Homo sapiens: one gene and its partners. The protein of the gene in region 2 interacts with the protein of the main gene of each other region in a pairwise test. Each region holds a gene or a part of one and is shown on either strand. Other genes may lie near its edges.

The links.
Region 1: the proteins of CWF19L2 (region 2) and CEP70 interact in binary tests that used the Homo sapiens proteins (3 or more experiments, as listed by UniProt).
Region 3: the proteins of CWF19L2 (region 2) and ATXN10 interact in binary tests that used the Homo sapiens proteins (3 or more experiments, as listed by UniProt).
Region 4: the proteins of CWF19L2 (region 2) and DISC1 interact in binary tests that used the Homo sapiens proteins (3 or more experiments, as listed by UniProt).
Region 5: the proteins of CWF19L2 (region 2) and PSTPIP1 interact in binary tests that used the Homo sapiens proteins (3 or more experiments, as listed by UniProt).
Region 6: the proteins of CWF19L2 (region 2) and VPS52 interact in binary tests that used the Homo sapiens proteins (3 or more experiments, as listed by UniProt).
Region 7: the proteins of CWF19L2 (region 2) and LZTS1 interact in binary tests that used the Homo sapiens proteins (3 or more experiments, as listed by UniProt).

What each region holds. Positions count from the first base shown.
Region 1 is NC_000003.12:138,573,761-138,577,260, forward strand, and holds part of CEP70 (centrosomal protein of 70 kDa), read right to left. Parts: intron 1-3,500.
Region 2 is NC_000011.10:107,426,826-107,430,325, forward strand, and holds part of CWF19L2 (CWF19-like protein 2), read right to left. Parts: intron 2,627-3,500; coding exon 1,974-2,626; intron 1-1,973.
Region 3 is NC_000022.11:45,692,334-45,695,833, forward strand, and holds part of ATXN10 (ataxin-10), read left to right. Parts: intron 1-662; coding exon 663-745; intron 746-3,500. UniProt on the Homo sapiens protein: May play a role in the regulation of cytokinesis. May play a role in signaling by stimulating protein glycosylation. Induces neuritogenesis by activating the Ras-MAP kinase pathway and is necessary for the survival of cerebellar neurons.
Region 4 is NC_000001.11:231,633,290-231,636,789, reverse strand, and holds part of DISC1 (disrupted in schizophrenia 1 protein), read right to left. Parts: intron 1-3,500. UniProt on the Homo sapiens protein: Involved in the regulation of multiple aspects of embryonic and adult neurogenesis. Required for neural progenitor proliferation in the ventrical/subventrical zone during embryonic brain development and in the adult dentate gyrus of the hippocampus.
Region 5 is NC_000015.10:77,035,551-77,037,975, reverse strand, and holds the end of PSTPIP1 (proline-serine-threonine phosphatase-interacting protein 1), read right to left. Parts: coding exon 2,413-2,425; intron 2,175-2,412; coding exon 2,041-2,174; intron 932-2,040; coding exon 800-931; 3' UTR 501-799; downstream 1-500. UniProt on the Homo sapiens protein: Involved in regulation of the actin cytoskeleton. May regulate WAS actin-bundling activity. Bridges the interaction between ABL1 and PTPN18 leading to ABL1 dephosphorylation.
Region 6 is NC_000006.12:33,265,377-33,268,876, forward strand, and holds part of VPS52 (vacuolar protein sorting-associated protein 52 homolog), read right to left. Parts: intron 3,274-3,500; coding exon 3,123-3,273; intron 2,833-3,122; coding exon 2,732-2,832; intron 2,622-2,731; coding exon 2,489-2,621; intron 2,364-2,488; coding exon 2,306-2,363; intron 1,946-2,305; coding exon 1,812-1,945; intron 1,698-1,811; coding exon of another isoform or gene 1,632-1,697; exon of another isoform or gene 1,356-1,631; intron 1,337-1,355; coding exon 1,181-1,336; intron 1-1,180. UniProt on the Homo sapiens protein: Acts as a component of the GARP complex that is involved in retrograde transport from early and late endosomes to the trans-Golgi network (TGN).
Region 7 is NC_000008.11:20,293,964-20,297,463, forward strand, and holds part of LZTS1 (leucine zipper putative tumor suppressor 1), read right to left. Parts: intron 1-3,500. UniProt on the Homo sapiens protein: Involved in the regulation of cell growth. May stabilize the active CDC2-cyclin B1 complex and thereby contribute to the regulation of the cell cycle and the prevention of uncontrolled cell proliferation. May act as a tumor suppressor.

The DNA of each region.
Region 1 (3,500 bases), on a different chromosome or scaffold from region 2:
GGTAAATGGAGTAACAGTGTTCTAAGTTTGTTTACAATGGAGGTGGACACTGGTAAAGGTATCTGTTAACACTGGGCTTTTGTATAAGTTAAGGATGCTTGAGAATTTCTAGGACATCCACTGAAGAACTGAACAGAAGTATATAATTTTCTAACTAGTAAAGGGGAAAAACAAGACTATAATGATGCATTTTTAAAAATAAACCCAAGGGCATCCAAGATGGCCAAATATGAAAGGCTTCAGTCTGCAGCTCCCAGTGTGACTGATGCAGAAGACAGGTGATTTCTGCGTTTCCAACTGAGGTACCTGGTTCATCTCGTTGGGACTGGTTGGACAGTGGGTGCAGCCCACAAAGGGCGAGCCGAAGCAGGGTGGGGCATTGCCTCACCCAGGAAGTGCAAGAGTAGGGAGATTACCCATTCCTAGCCAAAGGAAGCCGTGACAGACTGTACCAGGAAAATCCAGACACTGCTACCCAAACACTGCGCTTTTCCAATGGTCTCAGCAAGTGGCACACCAGGAGATTATATCCCATGCCTGGCTCAGTGGGTCCCATGCCCATGGAGCCTTGCTCACTGCTAGCGCAGCAGTCCAAGATTGAACTGCAAGGTGGCAGCCTGGCTGAGGGAGGGGCATCTGCCATTGCTGAGGCTTGAGTAGGTAAACAAAGCGGCAGGAAAGCTTGAACTGGGTAGAGCCCACCGCAGCTCAAAGAGGCCTGCCTGCCTCTGTAGACTCCACCTCTGGGGGCAGGGCATAGCTGAACAAAAGGCAGCAGAAACTTCTGCAGACTTAAATGTCCCTGTCTGACAGCTCTGAAGACAGCAGTGGTTCTCCCAGCATGGTGTTTGAGCTCTGAGAACGGACAGACTGCCTACTCAAGTGGGTCCCTGACCTCCGTGTAGCCTAACTGGGAGACACCTCCCAGTAGGGCCCGACTGACACCTCATACAGCCAGGTGCCCCTCTGAGATGAAGATTTCAGAGGAAAGATCAGGCAGCAATATTTGCTGTTCTGCAGCCTCTGCTGGCGATACCCAGGCAAACAGGGTCTGGAGTGGACCTCCAGCAAACTCCCACAGACCTGCAGCTGAGGGACCTAACTGTTAGAAGGAAAACTAACAAACAGAAAGGAAAAGCATCAACATTAACAAAAAGGACATCCACACCAAAACCCTATCTGTAGGTCACCATCATCAAAGACCAAAGGAAGATAAAACTACAAAGATGGGGAGAAACCAGAGCAGAAAAGCTGAAAATTCCAAAAATCAAAGCGCCTCTTCTCCTCCAAAGGATCGCAGCTCCTCACTAGCAACAGAACAAAGCTGGATGGAGAATGACTTTGACGAGTTGACAGAAGTAGGCTTCAGAAGGTCGGTAATAACAAACTTCTCCAAGCTAAAGGAGGATGTTCAAACCCATCACAAGGAAGCTAAAAACCTTGAAAAAAGATTAGATGAATAGCTTACTAGAATAAACAGTGTAAAGAAGACCTTAAATGACCGGATGGAGCTGAAAACCATGGCACGAGAACTATGTGACACATGCACAAGCTTCAGTAGCTGATTTGATCAAGTGGCAGAAAGGGTATCAGTGATTGAAGATCAAATTAATGAAATGAAGCGAGAAGAGAAGTTTAGAGAAAAAAGTAAAAAGGAATGAACAAAGCCTCCAAGAAATATGGGACTATGTGAAAAGACCAAATCTATGTCTGTTTGGTGTACCCAAAAGTGATGGGGGGAATGGAACCAAGCTGGAAAACACTCCTCAGGATATTATCCAGGAGAACTTCCCCAACCTAGCAAGACAGGCCAACATTCAAATTCAGGAAATACAGAGAACACCACAAAGATACTCCTCGAGAAGAGCAACCCTAGGACACATAAGTGTCAGATTCACCAAGGTTGAAATGAAGGAAAAAATGTTAAGGGCAGCCAGAGAGAAAGCTCGGGTTACCCACAAAGGGAAGCCCATCAGACTAACAGCAGATCTCTTGGCCGAAACCCTACAAGCCAGAAGAGAGTGGGGGCCAATATTCAACATTCTTAAAGAAAAGAATTTTCAGTCCAGAATTTCATATCCAGCCAAACTAAGCTTCATAAATGAAGGAGAAATAAAATCCTTTACAGACAAGCAAATGCAAAGAGATTGTGTCACCACCAGGCCTGCCTTACAAGAGCTCCTGAAGGAAGCACTAAACATGGAAAGGAACAACCAGTACCAGCCACTGCAAAAACATGCCAAATTGTAAAGACCATCAATGCTAGGAAGAAATTGCATCAACTAATGGGCAAAATAACCAACTAACATCATAATGACAGGATCAGATTCACACATAACAATATTAACCTTAAATGTAAATGGGCTAAATGCCCCAATTAAAAGACACAGACTGGCAAATCGGATAAAGAGTCAAGACCCATCAGTGTGCTGTATTCAGGAGACCCATCTCATGTGCAGAGACACACATAGGCTCAAAATAAAGGGATGGAGGAAGATCTACCAAGCAAATGGAAAGCAAAAAAAAGCAGGGGTTGCAATCCTAGTCTCTGATAAAACAGACTTTAAACCAGCAAAGATCAAAAGAGATAAAGAAGACCATTACATAATGGTAAAGGGATCAATTCAACAAGAAGAGCTAACTATCCTAAATATACACGCACCCAATACAGGAGCACCCAGATTCATAAAGCAAGTCCTTAGAGACCTACAAAGAGACTTAGACTCCCACACAATAATAATAGGAGACTTTAACACCCTACTGTCAATATGAGACAGATCAACAAGACAGAAGGTTAACAAGGATATCCAGGACTTGAACTCAGCTCTGCACCAAGCAGACCTAATAGACATCTACAGAACTCTCCACCCCAAATCAATAGAATATACATTCTTCTCAGCACCACATCACACTTATTCAAAAATTGACCACTTAGTTGGAAGTAAAGCACTCCTCAGCAAATGTAAAACAACAGAAATCACAACAAACTGTCTCTCAGACCACAGTGCAGTCAAATTAGAACTCAGGATTAAGAAACTCACTCAAAACCGCACAACTACATGGAAACTGAACAACCTGCTCCTGAATGACTACTGTGTAAATAACAAAATGAAGGCAGAAATAAAGATGTTCTTTGAAACCAATGAGAACAAAGACACAACATACCAGAATCTTGGAACCAACCCAAATGTCCATCAATGATAGACTGGATTAAGAAAATGTGGCACATATACACCATGGAATACTATGCAGCCATTAAAAAGAATGAGTTCATGTCCTTTGTAGGGACATGGATAAAGCTGGAAACCATCATTCTGAGCAAACTATCGCAAGGATAGAAAACCAAACACTGCATGTTCTCACTCATAGGTGGGAACTGAACAATGAGAACACTTGGACACAGGAAGGGGAACATCACACACCAGGGCCTGTCGTGGGGTGGGGGGATGGGGGAGGGATAGCATTAGGAGAAGTACCTAATGTAAACGACGAGTTAATGG
Region 2 (3,500 bases):
CAAATACACTAAAAAATTTGGAAAGACACTACCAACACTGTTAACCTGGCAAATAGGATTAGGGTTGGAAGTGACATGAAAGGGAGATTTACTTTTTCATTTTATACTCACCTATGCTTCATATTCTTGTTTTATACTCTTCTGTCTATATTGTTTAAATTTTATACATATACATTTATTAAGATTACAAATGGCATGTTCTAAAAAATAATACTGGTGTAAATAACAAGAAAGGTAAAGATATATGAACAATACATACAAAGAAGTAAAAACTAATTCAACTAATTTTTCCAATCATGACCATTCACTTATAAGACAAAGATTATTTGTAACAACTAGGCATTCTTCAAGGTCCTGTCTTGGTCTCCTACTTTACAACCACTCTACATTCTCAGGAATCTTTTTTTTTGGATGATTCCTAGATTTTTCTTTCCCTCTCCAGCCAGTCACAGAATTCATAGAAAGCCTCAAACCCTCTGTACCATCAAATTAACACAGCGAACAAAGAATACTGTCTTCAAAGGAAAAATTACATGTATACATACATATATATACACACATATATAGCTTTTAGTGAGTGCTGTCTTCAAACCGAAAAATTATATACATACACAGCTTTTAGTGAGTGCCTGTATTATAGTGTATCTATCAGAAGCTTACAACTTAAATAAGACATACAAATATGCAGCAATCAGACAACCGGTTGGAATACTAATCGTGTGGTATTACTTTGCAGACATTTTGCTTAGCTACAGTCACAGAAGAAGGCCTACAGATCATCCAAATGCTAACCCAATCCTAATGATATCAGGAAATAAGAGCCTCATTCCCCTAGTGACTGGGAACTGGAAATAGTCTACCACCCAGGGCACCTGGAGTGAAGACTGGACAATTACATATGCATACAGCCTTAGACAATAATCCCTGCCATGTTTGTTTAGTCAATACAATTGGATTTCTCCTTCCACTTCCTGGGAGGAAAGCCCTGATGTGAACCAGAGTCCATTTGACTGGGGCTTAATCACTCAGTTCAGATTTTGCCAGCTCCCTCCCACCGAAAATTACACACTGAGTTTTATAATCCACTGCTTCAGATGGAGTCATTAACAAAAGTGATTTATCAGACTCACAACCCCAAACCACAGTGCTTTTATCTACTACAACCATGTGTTTCTATTATTTCCTAAAACCTCTTCCTTTAGTGTCCCACTCATTTGGTGCTATTTTTAAACATATTTTAATGATCATTCACGTGTAAGTTGTTACCCTTTGGACACTTTTTTTTCTGGCTATCTCCAACAGGGCCAGCAAATTTCTAAAGCAAATTTTCTTAGGTTTAGTCCCATTCAACCTGGGTTTCCTCATCTTCTAACCCAGCCCTACATAAATGCAACATATATTTTATATTTAAAACTCTAATATTATCTTTAAAATCTGTCAATTGCCCAAAGTGGATTATTTCTTTCTTTGTGCAAAATAACAACCATAATTCATGCTCCCCTCTGCAAGATCTCTGGCATGTATTTGTCACTTTATATTTGGGCCGTGGCAGCGTGTTTTCCTTTTGTCTCCTAGACTTCCTATAGACATGCAGTATTTATGATTATGATTATACTCAACAATAAGATAATTTCCTTAGAAAGTAATGGCATTGGTAACAAAATCTACCAAAATATCTCCTGCAGCACATACATTTAAAACATTAACTCATTCAGTTTTTTAAATTGCAAAGCAGCAACATATTTTGAACAAATATAGCTACTGCTTTCAGCTCTTAAAAAAAAAAAAACCTATGAAATAAAATGCAATCCATACCACAATACTGCCTGTTAAATCTGCATATCTTACCCCTTCTATCAATTTTAAGAAATGTGAGATCATAGTCACAGCTAATAACTGATGTTCTAAAAATACAGTTCTGTTCTTTGAACTCTCTGGATCTTAACTTATTAGGTTAAAAAATGATAAAATACCCAGCAAATGTAGACTTTGTATCCCGTAGATGTTCTTTTTTTGGAGGGTCATCTCTCAAGACTTCATCTTGTGATTTTTCTCTTGGGTCTTCTGGAACATGTTGGTGTTCATCAGTACTGGTTTCCGATGGCTTTTGATTTGAATGTTTCTTGTCTCCTCTCCCATCAGAGCGACTCCATGATGTTAATCTTTCTTCACTGTTCTTGGTGGGTTTTCTAAAACCACTACACAAAGAGCCCTGAGCTACCAATGCTGAAGATGAACTAAGTGGTTCAAATTTTCTGCCCTTGCTGTGAAATGACAGTTCTTCATCATCAGAGGGTCTCAAGAATTTAGCTCTCAAATTGCCAAAAGAAAACTCTTGATTTTGCCTTGGGTTAGATTCTCTTCTACACGTTTCTAAAGACCCAGGTCTCTTATCTTTTTCATCACCAATAAATTTTTCATTATTGCTATTTTTTGCAGTATCTGTTGTAGCATATCTATCCCTTGAACTGTTACCATATTTTACTAAGTCTGATTCTCTACTTTCTTGACAATTTTGTGCTTTATCTGAATATGTGGGTTTCCTCCACCGTTCCCGTCTATAATCTTCTTTCGTGGATGCAGCTTTTTCAGCATCTTCTAATTTTGACTGAAATATTTCCATTGACTACAAAGGAGAAAAATTAAACAAGATATCTAAAATTAGGAACGGCTCAGTGACTTGCACCCCACATGTCACTGTATGACTCACTGCCAAGTGGCACACTGAAAAGCCCACTAACGGGGTGAAAGAAGACCCATACAATCATCCTATACGGAAACGAATACTTTCTAAAAATGTGTAAACAATTAAAAATTATTAAATAACAAAAAGATTCCAAAAGGATAGCCAGTTACACCAAACACTCTGCACTAACACAAAGTATAACACAGAAAACAGTAGAGACAAACTTTGCAAAAAATACTTAATTCCTACTGGTTGTGAGATTCAAGAGGTTAAATTGCTAAAACAGATTCTCACCAAAAAAAAAAAAAAAAACAGAATAGTTCAAGAACAAGAAAGACTTGGAAATAAAAAATTGTGTGTCCCAAAAAGCTGCCAAGATACACCAAAAGGAAGAAAAGACAGTGCTGAAAACTAAATTAACCTGGGAATTCTCTATATTTTAGGAAAAGGTAGTAAATAAATGTAAGTTATAAGAAAAAAAGATACATGAACAATTGATTCTAGAAAATCTAATATGCATTTATTAGTACTTCCAGAAAGATGGAGCAAAGATGATGGGAATAGAGCATTAATTTTAAAAATATATAAGAAAATTTCCCCAGCCGATTTCTCAGAAGGACTCATCCAATAGCCTTGGGTGGGGGAGAAAGAAGAAAAACACAGAAAAAAACCCTAATACCTGAATCTCAAAACTCAAGGAAAAAAAAAAAAACCTTTACAAGGACTAGATCAGGGAAGGAGTGAATAAGTGTGAGCCTGTATATGGATAGGGGTAGATAAATAACAAATTATCCACAAAGGAAAGACAGACTTA
Region 3 (3,500 bases), on a different chromosome or scaffold from region 2:
TATTGCATGCAACTTATGGTTGGGCGGAAATGAAAATGAACATTTAAGGGTGTTAATTTTTCTGCCTCTTCCCTTCTAGGATTGTATTATTATTCACTGTTGATTTTTAAAGGAAAATTTCAACCATTTAGGGCAGCAATTTTCAGAAAAGAATTTTCTAGTTAGAAATACTACAAAGATTCTAGTAAAGACTTTGTGGCCAAGCTTAACTAAGGCCAGTATTTCTGAGCCAGTCAAGATTCAGATTGCAACTAGTACATATTTTTCTGATGTTTTACTTTAAGTCGTTAAAGAGTTCATCAAAAGGTGTGATGCTATTAAAGCCTAGATCTTTTTACATCTTTTGCACTTTGTGTGGACTGGGACTGTTTTTGCCAAGAATGCATGGAATGGGGTAAAATACAATAAAGCAAAGAATCTGAGTCATGGGAAACTTCAGGAAGTACTCAAAGAAAGCTGTTGGAAGCAGTTAGCTCTGCATGTAAATATAACCTCTACTGCTAGGGTTGCTATATTTTTCCTGTAAAGAGCCAGATAATAAATAATTTAGGCTTTGTAATCTCTGTCAGATTTCTCAGCTCTCCCATTGTAGTGCAAAAACAGCCATAGACAATATATGAATGAATGAACATGTCTAATTTTGTCTTTTTTAAAAAACCCAGGAACTTGGATACGATTGGTGTTGCTGTTGATTTGATTCTTCTGTTTCGTGAACTGCGAGTGGAACAGGAATCTCTGTTGACAGGTAGCATGCAATATAATTCATGGATTATTTATATCTTTATAAAGGGTTCAAAACCAGTACTTTGAGTATTAACATCATTCATTGAAACACATGTTCTGTATTTCATGAGATAGGGAAACTTTAATAGTGAATTATTAAAGAATTATAAAGTTGTATCAACTTCCCTTCCTGAATGGCTGAATTTTGTTCCTTTCACATTTGTATGTTGAAGTCTGTCTGTTCCAGTTGCTATAACAAAATGCCTTAGGCTGGGTAGTTTATAAACAACAGAAATGTATTGCTTACAGTTCTGGAGGCTGGAAAGTCCAAGATTAAGGTACCAGCAGATTGGGTGTTTTGCGGGGGCTGCTCTCGTCTTCATAGATGGTGCCTCTTGCTTTGTTCTCCTGTGGTGGAAGGTGGAAGGCAGAAGGCATAAACAAGCTCTCTGGGCCCCTTTTATAAGGGCACTAATCCCATTCACGAGGGCTGCACCATCATGACCTAGTCACTTCCCAAAGGCCCCATCTTATACTAGCAAGTTGGGGATTAGATTTCAGCATAGGAATTTCGGAGGGGCACAGATATTCAGATCATAGCATGGTCCTAACCCCCAATACCCAGAATGTGACTGAATTTGGAGATAGGATCTTTAAAGAGGTAATTAAGGTAAAATGAGGGTATATGACTGGTATCCTTATAGGAAGAGGAAATTAGGACATGGCCATGCTCAGAGTAGAGACCATGTGAAGACACAGGGAGAAGATGACCATCTACAGGCCAAGGAGCGAGACCTCAGAAGAAATCAGCCCTCTCGACACCTTGATCTTGGACCTCCAGCCACCAGAACTGTGTAAAAATAAATGTCTGTTGTTTAAGCCATTCAGTCTGTGGTAAGACTTTTAATATTTATGAATGTGACAGGCCCTGGTCCAGGTTTTGGGTGTGATTCAAACAGTGACCAAAACAGACAAAAAGTGTCTGTCCTTAGAGAACTCACATTCCGTTGAGGGGAACCACATGTTAAGTGTCTAAGTCAAGTATCTAGTGTGATGAAAATGGAACTTAGCTCTGATTGTTAACGGTTGTTGACTTGGGATTAAGAGAAACACCACACTTCTTTAGACTCATTAGTAGAATGGTTTTGGTCTTTGTTCTTCTAGCATCAACATCTTTCCTTTGGACAGTGGTTATTATCTTAACATAATGTTTAAAAAAAAAACGTAGATTTTTAATTTATGATCTCTTTGTGCCAGGAATTGAAATACTTTATGGGTAAACCTAAATTATTTGATAAAAAAATCTTAATGTAGGCTGGGTGCCGTGGCTCATGCCTGTAATTCTAGCACTTGGAGAGGCCAAGGTGGACAGATTGCTTGAGCTCAGGTGTTTGAGACCAGCCTGGGTAACATGGTGAAACCCCGTTTCCAAAAAAATACAAAGGCTGGGTGCAGTGGCTCAAGCCTGTAATCCCAGCACTTTGGGAGGCTGAGGCGGGCGGATCATTTGAGGTCAGGAGTTCAAGACCAGCCTGGCCAACATGGTGAAACCCCCTCTCTACTAAAAATACAAAAATTAGCTGGGTGTGATGGCGCATGCTTGTGATCCCAGCTACTCAGGAGGCTGAGGCAGGAGAGTTGATTGAACCTAGGAGATGGAGGTTGTAGTGAGCCGAGATCGTGCCATTGCACTCCAGCCTGGGTGACAAGAGTGAAATTCTGTCTCGAAAAAAAAAAGAACCGGGCATGGTGGCACACGCCTGTAGTCGCAGCTACTTGGAGGCTGAGGTAGGAAGATTGCTTGAGCCTGGGAGGTGGAAGTTGCAGTGAGCTGAGATCACGCCGCTGCACTCCAGCCTGGGTGACAGAGCAAGACTCTGTCTCAAAAAAAAAAAAAAAAAAAAAAAAAACAAAACCCCAGAAAATTTTAATGTAAATTTCCAGGTGGATAAGTTAGATGTACTAAATTATAGGTTAAATTTTGTTGTTGTTGGCTGGGCGCAGTGGCTCACGCCTGTAATCCCAGCACTTTGGGAGGCTGAAGTGGGCGGATCACGAGGTCAGGAGATCTACCTGGCTAACACGGTGAAACCCCGTCTCTAGTAAAAATACAAAAAATTAGCCGGGCATGGTGGTGGGCACCTGTAGTCCCAGCTACTGGGGAGGCTGAGGCAGGAGAATGGCATGCACCCAGGAGGCAGAGCTTGCAGTGAGCCGAGATTGCCGCCACTGAACTCCAGCCTGGGCGACAGAGCGAGACTCCACCTCAAAAAAAAAAAAAAAAATTGTCATTGTAATAACGTCTTTACCTTATAATTCAATGAATATAACCTTTAAATGAGAAGTCTCCAGTTGCATTTAAAATATTATTTGACTTACAAATTGTTTTATATACAGTTTTAATGCCTGTACTTTGCATATAACATGAGGCATATTTCTTTTTTTTTTTTTGAGATGGAGTCTTACTCTGTCGCCCAGGCTGGAGTGCAGTGGTGCGATATTGGCTCGCTGCAACCACCGCCTTCCCGCCGGGTTCAAGCGATTCTCCTGCCTCAGCCTCCCGAGTAGCTGGGATTACAGGCGCCTGCCGCCGCACTCGGCTGATTTTTTGTATTTTTTTATTAGAGATGGGGTTTCACCTTGGCCAGGCAGGTCTTGAACTCCTGACCTCATAATCTACCCACCTCGGCCTCTCAAAGTGCTGGGATTACAGGCATGAACCACCGCACCTGGCCACGTGAGGCATATTTCTATTGATGTTAATATGTGTGCTTCTC
Region 4 (3,500 bases), on a different chromosome or scaffold from region 2:
GAATAAAATTTTAAAGGTAGTGTCAATATAAATTCATACCAAGATTAGCTGAAGGGAAAGTAACTCCCATAAGACATCTCATTTTGTTTCCACTGAGCCTGTTCTGACTCCTTGAAATGGCAGAAACAGGGGTAATAACAATATCTTTTATCATGTATTACCTTATGCTTTTCAAAAAAAGTTTCAAAAACACAATAAATATTTGAATAAATGCACTTAGATAATCCCAAATCAGAGTCAAGAAAATATATAAAAGTTAAATTCAAATGATAGAATTTGTCCATTTTTCCATTCAAATTACAATTTAAGTCAAGTAAAGAAAGACATACAAAAGCTGCATGATTAGGAGGGAGTGCAGCGCTCATCCTCCTGTCCCCAAGGCCGATTAGCCAGCTGGGTGAGAGATGAGATCATGAGTTCTGGGCCAATGAGTCACTGCCCTTCACCATTGCCCCCAGACACAAACAGCTGCAGGTCTCCCAAAGCGTGTGTCCACCCTACGGAGCTGCCACCCTACAGAGGAGAAAATGTGGGTGAAAGTAAGCAAAAGCAACATCACAACCATGAAATTAACTCAGTGTTCTACAAATGGAGAATTATATATCTCTTTCTGAATGAAGAGCAGCATATTTCATACACAGTGTGGAAATAAACATTGAGTAAATTGTTTTCAAAATTGTCATACCTAGGAGTAAACCCAGCAATAGGTAAATTATAAATTAAAGGAGCCCTTCTTTCTTCCTCCATCTATCCATCCATCTAGACTGTAAGGTATTTATTAGGCATCTACTGGTGCTAAATACTTCTTAATGATTTTAGTACACCCCGATGTGCCCAGTCCTTCTGATGAAACAATATCCGGAAACTTCATGAGAATGAATTCTCTTTTTTCCACGGGACTATAGGCTTCTCAATGGTGTAGACAACACTATCTATTTGAATTTACATATCAATTTACACATATATATACAAACATAAGTATATATATTTTTTATATTCAAGAGCTATCATAGTATCTGACTATATAGTGTATGCATCTCAATAAATATTTAAACTGAACTGAACTTCTGAAACTCCTGATTGGTTTCAAAAGATATAAAAATAATAGACTTGGTTAATCTATGCATTGGATTAATACATCCTAAATATAATTAAGAGTTTGGTCTAATCCAGTGAGAACAGAGTAAACCATAAGTGTACTACATAGATGAGGGAGTAAGGAGATAAACCAGAACTGAAACCTTGAGTTGAAGAAGTCTACATTGGAGTCAGAAAAACAGGTTATATCCATAACAAACTATAACAGAAGAAGGAGAGAGCAGACGATTCCAGAGAACCAGGGAAGGCTGAGAAGCATTATTGATTTGCTAGGTGGTAAATGAGGGATGACATTTTGATGCGTTCAGATTGGGAGCAAGAAAGACGGATTCTGTAATATTCTCGGTGGGCAGAATAATGTGCATAATAAAAAGGCCAGAGTGTCCGTTTTAAGTGTTTAAGGGCCAGTGTATGGAAAGCTTGAAAAGAGATGCTAAGAATTTGCTTGGGGGGAGATAATGAGTCTCTGAAAGCCCCTTCCACAGAGGAACAATAACCCAATCAGATCTGTGCTTTGTGAGGACTGTCCTGGCAGCAGTGTGCAGGCCTGATTGGAAGGAGTTACTCAACAGAGACATAATGACATAATCCAGTATCAGAACTGGGAAGACACAGGAAGGGCTGGAACACCTTCTGAAGAGGCATCCTAGGTGTGGCTGTTAAGCTCTAAGGCCTAAGAATACCAGGCTCCCTTAGTTCTCTCTAGACTGGATGGCCCTTGAGAACAATCTACATTTTTGGTTTTGGGGGAGTTTTTTCATTTTTTTTTTGAGACAGGGTCTTGCTATGTTGTCCAGGCTGGAGTGCAGTGGCTATTTGTAGGCACAAGCATAGCGCACTGCCACCTTGAACTCCTGGCCTCAAGCAATCCTCCCGCCCCAGCCTTCCAAGGAGCTGGGACTATAGGCATGCACCACCATGCCTGGCACTCTACATTTTTAAGTACCCTGCAATGTACAACACTGTACTGTGTATACAGTAGGTGCTAGTGTTTGTGAATGAATAAATAAACACAATGGAAGAAATTAATGGATAAGTTAATGTCTCTAGGAGATAATTCTATAAACTAAGGAACACAAAATGATTAATAGAGTCGAGGCAATTTAAGGCCCCCAAATCTACTGTTTAAATTGAATACAGATGCTCTATCCCCAAGGACAGTGTCTCACATTTCATTTTGCTTGGCCTGCAGCTATAACACAAGACGCTAGGGAAACATTAAGACTTGTACTGAAATACGCAAACTTTTTTTCTTCAGAAGATTTGTGATCCCAAAACAGCTCTTGCAACTCTAAGTTTCCAGTGTAGCAGAAATATTAGAACCCCGTTTTATCTCTGTATTTACTTTTTTTTTCACTTGACCATTGTAAAATAATCTTCCTTTTCCTATCAGTGTTGGAGTAAGATGAGGCATGCTTTCACTACAAATGCAAAACACGCACATTCTCCTGTGTTAAAAATAAAGTCCAATAATCAATCCACTCACAAACCAAGAGATGACAGGTACAGGCCAGGCGCGGTGGCTCACTCCTGTAATCCCAGCACTTTGAGAAGCCGAGGCAGGCGGATCACTTGAGTTTAGGAGCTCAAGACCAGCCTGGCCGACATGGTGAAACTCTGTCTCTACTAAAAATACAAAAATTAGCTGCACGTGGTGGGGCATGCCTGTAATCCCAGGTACTTGGGAGGCTGAGGCAGAAGAATTGCTTGAACCTGGGAGGCGGAGGTTGCAGTGAGCCAAGACTGCGCCACTGCACTCCAGCCTGGGCTACAGAGCAAGACTCCGTTTCAAAAAAAAAAAAAAAAAGATGACAGGTATGAAAAAGAAAAGTTAGGTAGGCGTACATGTCACAAAATGCAATTTCAACTCAGATTCCACATTCAGGACACAACTTACTCATTAAACTTTAGATATTTCACCTTTCAACCTGTGAAAGCGATTAGTCTCCATGCAAGGCCACCTGTCAAATGCACGTTTCTACTCCTGGTAGATTTGTTCATCTGGGCGAACATAATTGTGTTAATGATCAATATCAATCCTAGACATGTACAGCTCTGGGGAGTTAAAGTAGCTACGACATTCGGGCAGATGACTGCAAAGAAGCTATCTAGGCTTCCTGAAATGGAACCACCTGGGCAAGGGAAGGAAGCAAAATGTGGAAGCCCAATGAGCAGGGAATAGGAAATTTACACAGTAGCTCAAATCCTGCACAATCCCAATCCTGCAGGACAACGATCACAGCATCTTAGCACTGGAAGGGTTCCCATTCATCATCCAACGCAGCCCCCTCCCCAGTGCAGAACCCTCATGACAGTCACCCTAGAGTCATCCACACTGCCCTACATACTTCCAATGACAAAATGCTCTCTGCCTTTCGGGGTAGCCTATTCCATCAATGGAT
Region 5 (2,425 bases), on a different chromosome or scaffold from region 2:
GTGAAAGTTATGTTCCTGGGACTAAAAAGAGAAGGGGCTGAAGGCCTTCAAGAACAGCTCCCTCTGTGCCCGGGGCCAACGTGCCTGGGCTGTGGACCCCTGCTCGGCCGGGGTTGCCATGTTGAGGGGAGTGTCATGGGCAGCAGTGGCTTCCCCAGGCCCCACTTGCACCCACAAGCCACAAGCCTGTCTTCCTGGGCTCCCACCATGGCCTCTCCAACAGATCCATCACCAGCTTCCTGTTTCCAAACTGAGTCCTCCGAATATTCCTGGGTGTACCCCCAACCTCACCTTTGCCCACGCACTTGCCCTGGCCTGGCCACTGCTGCCCAGCCATGGACCTGCTCAACCCTCCGCCCCCAAGAAGCCTGCTCTCCCCATTGCAGCCCTGCTGAGCCCCTTCTTGCCCCTGCCACATCCTCCTGCACCCCTGTGTCCTCTGTCCAGGTGTGAATGTGTCTCCTTGGCAGTCTGGGAGCTCCTAGCAACTGGGGCCAGGCCTCTTCTCCAACTATAGCTGAAGCCTCGGCTGAGTTGGGGAGCTCCACATCCAGGCTCCTTCCCTTGTTCCTTTGCCTCCTCTGAACTGAGCACTCGGACACTGGAGCAGGAGAAAAAGAGAACGGGACCCCAGCACACCAAGGAGAACAGAACGCACTCCTTTATTCCCTGGGAGACGACAGGCTCCCTCTCGGGGCTGGGGGACGCTTGGTTCTGGGCCCTAGCAAGGTGGGGACAGTGCTGGGGGCACTGCTGGCTCCACTGGCAGGGCAGGTCCGAAGGGGCTCCTGGCCCTTCCTCAAAGCTTCTCCAGGTAGGAACCAGGGACGAAGCCACGCTGCCCGTTCCTCTCCACAGTCCACCAGCCATCCTCCCCTTCCAGGATCACCTCCAGGATGTCTCCCGCGGACAGGTCCAGCTCATCTGGGTTCTGGCCAAGAGATTGAAAGCGCATGACGTTGGAAGGGCCTGCAGGGAAGGGCCTGCAGGGAGGGGCCTGGCGTTCCCCCACCCAGCAGTAAATGCGGCATGTCTCCCAGGGTGGGCAGGGGCAGCCCCTTGGGGACACAGGATGGGGGTAACCCAACGGACCGGGCCTCCCATCCCCCTCAGTTTGTCATCATAGTTCTCCCCCAACCTGGGTTTCTTCCCAGCCTCACCTCCCCTCTCCCATTCTGGAGACGCAGTGACTGGAGCATGTCAGGGGTCACGGGTGCTCATCATACCCCAAGCCCAGGGCACACTCATGCCTAAGCTTACCACAAGCCTCCCCTTTGCGGTCCCCAGCCCCAGCTAGCCACTGCCATCCAAGTACCCCATCACTCTCCTGGCCTGGCTTCCCTGCCTCCCCGAGCCCTGGCCTCATCAGTGGAGTCCACACCCAGCCTGCCTGGCTATGTGGGGGTGCTTGGCCTCAGTCCAGGTGGATGTGAGGTCTGGCTATGCATTCTTCCCCTCAAGCAGGGAGCAGAAAGGACTCTCATAGCTGCCCTGTGGCTGCCTTGGTTCATCCTCACCCTATGGACATCAGAAAATCAATCCTGGCACGATAGCAAGACTCATTCTGGCCACAGTTTTCCACACCCATGGCCACGAAGGACAGGGCCCTGACCCAAAGGCACAGAGCCTGGCCCTCAAGCTATGACCTGCAGGCAGCTCCAGGCTCTGCCAGCTCCCCGCACGTGTGCACCACTCAGCGCCCAGCCTGTGTGGACGGCATAGGTACATGTGCTCCACGTGTGTGCTGTGTACAGGCCCGGGCAGACACAGGCCTGCTGCACACCAGCTTCCAGTCAGTACATGCACACTGAGGCCCCGCAAGCCCTGGGTGCTGTTCTCAGAGCTCACATCCAAGCACACTCCCAGGTACCCTTGCTAGTGTGGACACACTCGGGCACACGTGCCCTCCTGAGGAGGAGAGGATGCTCGAAGATGAGTGAAACCATGAGGAGAGATGAGGACGCAAGGCACTGGATGGGAGAGGGAGCTCTCAGGTGCAGGGGAGGTGGCACAGGTGGGTTTGGGGTATAGAGGCCTCACCTGCGCTGTATAATCGTAGAGCGCCCGGTACTCCTGGGCTGGTGAGGCCGGGTTTCCCTGTATCTCCTGCACTGCGATGGCTGTGTAGACACCCTCATTCCGCTCGGGGGTGGGGGTCAGGGTCTCTGTGGACGCTAAGAGCAGGGTGAGACATAGACCCCTCCCCTTCTGGGGACACTGGCCCCTGGAAGTCCTACTAGAATGGGGTTTCTCCATGCTGGGCCCTGCCTCTTCCTTCTGCTGTCCACACTTGCTGTTGGGGGACACACACTTCCTCTTGAGGGCCTCAGTGGCCCCATCTGTGCCATGTGGGAGACCTCTCCTCCCCCCCAGGATCAGTGTGTTTGGGGGTCCCCTCCTGACCCCCTTTACCAGCAGAAGCTGC
Region 6 (3,500 bases), on a different chromosome or scaffold from region 2:
TTTCGGCTTTAGAGACAGGTTGTTTTGTCACCTAGGCTGGATTGTAATGGTACAATCATAGTTCACTGCAGCCTCAAACATCTGGGCTCAAGTGATGTTCCCACCTCAGCCTGCCAAGCAACTGGGACCATGGGTGTGTACCACCATGCCTGGTTAAGTTTATTTTTAAATTTTTTGTAGAGACAAGGTCTTGCCGCATTGCCCAGGCTGGTCTCGAACTCCTGGCCTCAAGCAACCTTCCTGCCTTGGTCTCCCAAAGTACTGGGATTGCAGGCATAAGCCACTGCACCTGGCCACACCAGGATCTATGATCACAAGCCTATCACAGCAGAGTTCAGGGCTGAGCTTGGGTCAGGGGTTTGAGCACCAAGATTTGGGGGACCCTCAGTTTTCACGTGCTATTGCCTGATTGTGGGTCAGCAGTAGGGGTAGTCTCAGGGACCCTACGCACTGAGGATTTCATGGGGGAGTAACACTGTGACAAGTCTAAGTAACAAGTTTTTTTTTTGAGATGGAGTCTCGCTCTGTCACCCAGGCTGGAGTGCAATGGCGCAATCTTGGCTCACTGCAATCTCCTCCTCCCAGGTTCAAGCAATCCTCCTGCCTCAGCCTCCCGAGTAGCTGGGATTACAGGCCGCGCACACCTGGCTAATTTTTGTACTGTTAGTAGAGACAGGGTTTCATCATGTTGGTCAGGCTGGTCTCAAACTCCTGACCTTGTGATCCTCCCGCCTCAGCCTCCCAAAGTGCTGGGATTACAGGCGTAAGCCACTGCACCTGGCTATTTTTTTTTTTTTTTTTTTTTGAGACAGGTCTCACTCTGGAGTGCATGGCTCACTGCAGCCTTGACCTCCTGGGCTCAAGCAATCCTTCCACCTCAGCATCTTTAGTAGCTGTGACCACAGGCACACATCAACACACACCCGGCTAATTTTTCATTTTTTGTAGAGATGAGGTTGTTGCCCAGGCTGGTCTCAAACTCCTGAGCTCAGGCAATCCTACTGCCTTGGACTCCCAAAGTGCTGGGATTATGGGTGTGCACTACCACGCCCAGCCAAGGCTTAGACATTTTAGAATGAGGCGATCCTGATTTCAGTTCTACCAGAGTCATGACCCCACTATGCTGCTGATGAAGACTGGGGACAAAGGTGTTGAATGGTACAGGAAACAGGAGTCTTACCAGGGTCATGCTGAGTGTACGGCCCATGACAGCATGGAACAGGTCGTGTGCAGCTGGGCCAGACACAACAAAAAATTCACAGATGAAAAGGTATTCGCGGCAGGAATTGTCTAGGAGGGCGTAGTGCTGGCTGCGGAAGAGGGCCTCAAATGGATACTGGGAGAGGAGGAGTAAAGAAGAAAAACAGAAGGGATGGACCCCAACACTGACTTCCCATGGATATGGCTGGAAAATCAGTAAACCTGAGTAATAAGAGCTAGGCAGACCCTTCGCATCTATCTAGGTCCGGGCTGTCTAAGAGCAAGCTGAATGGGCACTGAAAAGGTGGGGGAACATAGGGGTACAAAAAGGGCCTACACCCACCTGCTGTTGCTACTCCTGCATCCACCTCAACACCTGCCTCTGACTGTCATTCCCCTCATCCAGTCTCTCCCCTCTGCATGCCCTTAAGTCAATGGTTCCCAGCTCTTTTCACATCACAGCAGGCTGGAGTGATTGGAGAAGGCCACTCCCAAGTCTAAGGGGATTAAGACAGGGCCTGCAGGTTGGGAAGCTCTGCCCTGAGGTCTGGCCTTCCCTCCCCACCGTGCTCAGAGCCTCTTTCGTGACTGAAGCTTGTTCCTCCTCATACCCTCTGCTCTCCGCGCTGCGCTGTGTGAGGCACCAGGATGGGGGCCTCAAGTTCAGTGGGGGAGATGACAGAGCCGCGGGTTCCTAGGGTGAAAATGGTGTTCCTGCTGCGGAGCGATGGCTTTGAGAAGAATCGTAAGATGGGTCAGAGTCAGGGAAAACAATGAGACCATAACTGGGCCCAAAGACTCACTATCTGTGGGGACCCCAGACAGGCAGACGTGGCCTAGCCAGCCCTCTTTCCCAGTACTAGGGCCCCACGTGCTGACATCTGTGAATGGGCTTCAGGGTGTCTCTCCCTCCCTTGCAATCATATGCAAAACTATGTGTCAAAATAATGTGTGCATCTTTCTGGGGAGGGAGGCTATAGCTTTCATCACATTCTAAAAGGTTTCAGTCCCATAGGAAAAGGTAAGGAGCAGTGCATTGGTGGCTGGAGTCGAAAGTCCTCCCACTCTCAAGGCCTGGCATGAGGGTTCCCCAGTACTAGGATATCTTTCTTTGCTGTATCTTCCACACCCATTAGATCATCTTTCTCAGCGACTTCCTCATACTAAGGAAAGAGAAAAGAGAACTGATAACCGTCTCTTCCCACAACACAATAAAATATTCCTTGCCCAGGGATGTCCCCTCCTCCCAGTCCATGTGCCCAGGAATACCTCTCCCTCCTGACCTTACCTGCACCTTCATGAGCCGCCCCAGGTAAGAGCGGTAGTAAGACAGGTAAATCTTGCTCAGCGTCTCCACATATTCATCCCTGATCTCCTTTGCTGTTGCTCGTTCATTGCCCAGCAGAAACTGATAGAAGAACCTAGGGGGTCAGGAACATGTCAGTCTACCTGTCTCCCAAGAAACCAGATGCCCACACTAGGCCGCTCAAAAACTCAAAGGCCATCCCATGCACTTCCTTGGGGTTGTGACCTGTACTTCAGCAGGGCCGTCTGGGGGATCTGATAGTTGGTCATGGGTTTCCTGAAGGAATAAATCTTCTGGAGGATAAACTCTCGGATCTTCGTCACTGCCTAGATGTGGGGAACCAAACACAGGGCATGAAGCTGCAACCCTTTTGCTGTATGAGAGGAACTGGGGGAAGCAACAAATGGTAAACATAGGCAGAAGGGTGGTGAATATCTCTTTGGTATTTCTCAAGATTTTCAGGGAAACCCAGAGAGACAAGAATGGGGCTGCCCAGAAAAGGCAGGGTGAAGTCCCTGGAGACAGGCTACAGTGAGCTCTGCCAAGGAAATCCATAGTGAAGATCTTGGGAAGGCTGCTTCCAGTAGCCTCCAGGGTATCCATCCCTACTTCCCACCTTGACCCGGAGCCGATCGAGCACGCCTCTGACATCTGCGCAGGCTGCTGTGCCTCTAGCTTCCTGCTCTCTGACTGCGGCTGCCTTGGCATCCAGCTCCTGTAGCTGCTCCAAGAACCTGGGCTCTGTCACTGGAGCCTCCAGAATTGCCCTGGTTAGCAGGGAGGGGTGGGATGAGTTACAAGGGAGACCCAGACATCCCTAAACCAGACCCAGACCACACTCCTTACCTCCAGCCCCTGTCATCTCTACCACCTTGCATTGTACCATATAGTCAGGACACATGTACAAAGTTTTCTATTCCTGGACCTCCCCACTATACACCTGATCTTACATCATTCTTAATCTTAATCTTTGATGCCTAATGCATACCTAAAG
Region 7 (3,500 bases), on a different chromosome or scaffold from region 2:
AAAAAGAAAATGGAAAGAACTGGGTTCCTGAGGTGTGAAATAAAAGTTCTTGGCAGTGAGTATTTGTGTGTGTGTAGGGGAGACAGGGAGAGGATATGGATAGAGTGGTTTTTAAGCATCCTTTCAACCCTGAGGTGTTGTGTTTGCATGTAGAGTATCTGAAGTTTTTTCAGCACAGGCTCTTTTGTGTCCTGACAAATCTTAGGACCCTAGAGTTGGAGGTCCTGTCTGCGGCTCTAGAATAGAAGTAAGTCCAACATCAAGAAAAAGTTTCTAAGTCAACAGATGTCCGAGGTACTGGTGGAAGCCCAGAGAAGCCAAATGCCTGGTGCTTCTAGTTTGATAGATGAAGAAATCCTGTCTTGGGAATAGCCACGCATCCTGCCCACACCTGCCCCACCAGCCACCAGCCGGCTGCACAGCCTTTGAGCAGGGCCAGCTGCGGGCCTGGCAAGGGGAGGAGCCGAAGGCAGCTGGGGAGTCCTTCCCAGGCCTCCTTCAGGGGCCGGCTCGCTTTACAGTGCAGGTGGAGGCTGGGGGCTCCGCCTGGCTCCTCTCATTTTCCCCACCTGCCTGCAGTGTGGTTTGTCTGCTGGGGCCACGGAGGCGTTGGGGCTGGGGGAATTTGATAGGCAAGGAGGGGGAGGCTGTCTCCTCAAGATGTGTGCGCTGTCCAGTCCATGCTTCCCTCCCTCCTCCCCTTGCACTGTGGAAATGCCCTTTGGGGGTGGCGGGGAGCAGGGAAGAGCTCAAGCTGGAGTGTCTGAAGGTTGCAATAAATAAGGGAAGCTACCCTGAGTGTGTAGATTGTCCTTCTGGACCTCTGCTGGGGATGACCATGGGAGACAGAGGGGAGGGCAGACCCCACACAGGTACCTACAGACACCAGGCATGGGGCTGCCTCTCTGGAAGGTCAAGGGCAGCCTCAGGGCTCATCCCCATATCCCTCAAGAGTCTCCCCATCTCCCTAGCTAGGGAGGCTTCTGTTCTTGGCATTTTCCTATTATCTCCCCCAAGCAGAGTGTGGGAGGCAAGGAGCCTGGGTTGGGGGCCCCAAGAGGTCCCAAGCCAGCTTGGGATGGCATGAGTTCCCTTTCTAACCTCTCCCTGGGTGCCCAAACAAATGTTATCAGTGACTCAGGGAGCCTCCTGTCAAGGTCAGTCTGCCCTGCCTGACGCTGTCACTGCTGCCCGATGTGAGAACCGATTCTGCTTCCTACCTCCTGCCAGCCCCGGCACCATGCCTGGGCATTGGGCAATGGATGAGCTATCAGGAGAGCCCATGTGCCAGGTGGAGATCACCCCCAGCCTTCTGCACAAGGACCACAGGTCTCTTAAGTTTCTGCTTTCCTGGCTGGTCTGTTCTGCAGTGTAACCCTTTCCCTCCCTGGAGTTTCCCACTGAGATTGCAGACCAAGCCCTGTAGATTCCCTTGTGATTCCATCTCCTCTTGCTTGCCTGGCTTTCCAATTTCTGTGGCCCTTGAGTGGCACAGAGAGATCTGAAGTGGCTGGGTAGAAAGAAGCACTGTGGGCCTTAGCGCCATCCATCTCTGCCATTTGGGACCGAGCCCTAGACCATTCCTAAGGCCTGGTGCTATATATCAGATGCGGGACACACATTCTCTTTCAAGGGGCTTATAACCTATGCTGGGAGGGAGGATAGAGATAAAAAGCTAAATATGAATACATGGGAACAAGTGCTCAAATGGGAGTGACAAGTACGTTATACACTGTAGAATTCAAGGAACAGGGAGTTCACAGAGGGCAGAACCCTTCTCTTCCCATGGCTAATGTCCTTTCCTGCCTCCAGACCAGGGGTGGGAAGACACTCAGTAGCAGGTGGACCCCTCTGTCTCCTCCCACTGAGCCAGGACCCACTCACCTATAATGCCCCCCCAATCCAGTGTCACTGGGGTCACCAGGGAAAGGTGCTGGCAAACCCCAGGCCTTGTTTCCCTGCCTCCTTCACGCTGTCTTCCCTCCTTCCCTCTCTCCCCTCTCCTTGCATGTCTATACTCAATTCTCCCTCTTTACAGCAGGAATATAATGTTCGGCTGCCTTACACCCACTCTCTGAATGCTGCCAGCGAATAATGACTAAGGTGGTGGGTGGAAGTACAGCAAGTTGAGACCAATTTAGCAGTCCATGGTGCCAAGAGGAGGGTGATTTAGCAGCAAATGGCTCTGCAGCAGCAAGAAGAGTGAAAATGTCCCCCAAGCCAACAGGCCAGGGAGCCAAGTGCACAGCCCTGCCCTGATGCCTTGGGCGGGGATGGCCTCAGCCACCTGAGAGGTTATTCTGTGAGGTCAGATTCATGCACAGGAATGGGAGGGTTTGAGAACAATGCCCACTCCCAACCCCATCTCACCTCCACTTTCAACCTCCTTGAGGGGCCCCAGTTCTTGTACCCCTCTTAGGCTGAAAGTCTCACCTAGACTGGCCCATCCTCTTCCTCCAGAGGATCTGTAACTCTAATGGGTTCGTGGCCACCTAAAGACTGCCCCAGGCATGGCATCGGGGAGGGGGCTGTCTGAGCTCACCTCAGACCATGCCACAGATTGGCCAGCCCAGGTAGGCAGAGGTGTGGATCTCCCGGGTCCTGACATCTTGGGAGTCTCTGAAGATTTGTGTAATGTGATGTACTTGGGCTTGTGAGTTTGGGTATCACAAGAAAGCACGTCTCAGAGGGAGAGACAATGAGAGTGGATGAATGAAATGGATACGTGTGTGTGCGTGTGTATGTGTGTATGTGTGCGTGTGTGCATGTGTGTGCATGTGCTCTGGCACTGGCCTGAAGGCAGCCCTATCTTCTCCCACAATGATTAACTGACATGAAGCACATCTATTGGCGATCTCCATGGGGCAGCTCTTTGCTGTCTTTGTTCCAGGTGCTGGACGCAACCCACATCACATCTGTTCAGACACCGATTTGGCCTGTCACTTAGTAAGAAAAATCACCTCTCTGCTGGATTGATTAGATCAATTAGCTTTAGCTGTTAGCTAACACACACATTCCCTCTCTGCTTGTCTTCTGTCTCCGTCTTCCGCCTCCCTTCGCTCCCCTCCTTCCCACGATGCTCCATCCAATTCTCTTCTCCCCTGGGGGCAGCCTCCATGTGTGATTGCCCCTGAAGTCTGGTTTCCACAAATTGCTTGAGCTACCAGTGAAGAGACTGCTATCCCATTTTAGTTCAGAACGTACTTGCTCATGGACAAGGTGGAAACACTGAAATATATTATGCAATTAAGGTTGGTATTCCAATGAAATGTCATTAATTCAAATTCTGTGGAGGCAACATTTGCTCTAATTTCAACATGGAGTGGACTAAACCTTTTGAATTGACAAGCTATAAAGAAAGAACTGACATATGATAAATTTCATTCTCTAAAGCAAATGCCAAGTAGACATTCCATTATCCTAGCTACATCCTACTTTATTGTGTTTGTTTGTTTGTTTGTTTGTTTTTGAGACAGAGTCTCGCTTTTTAGCCTAGGTTG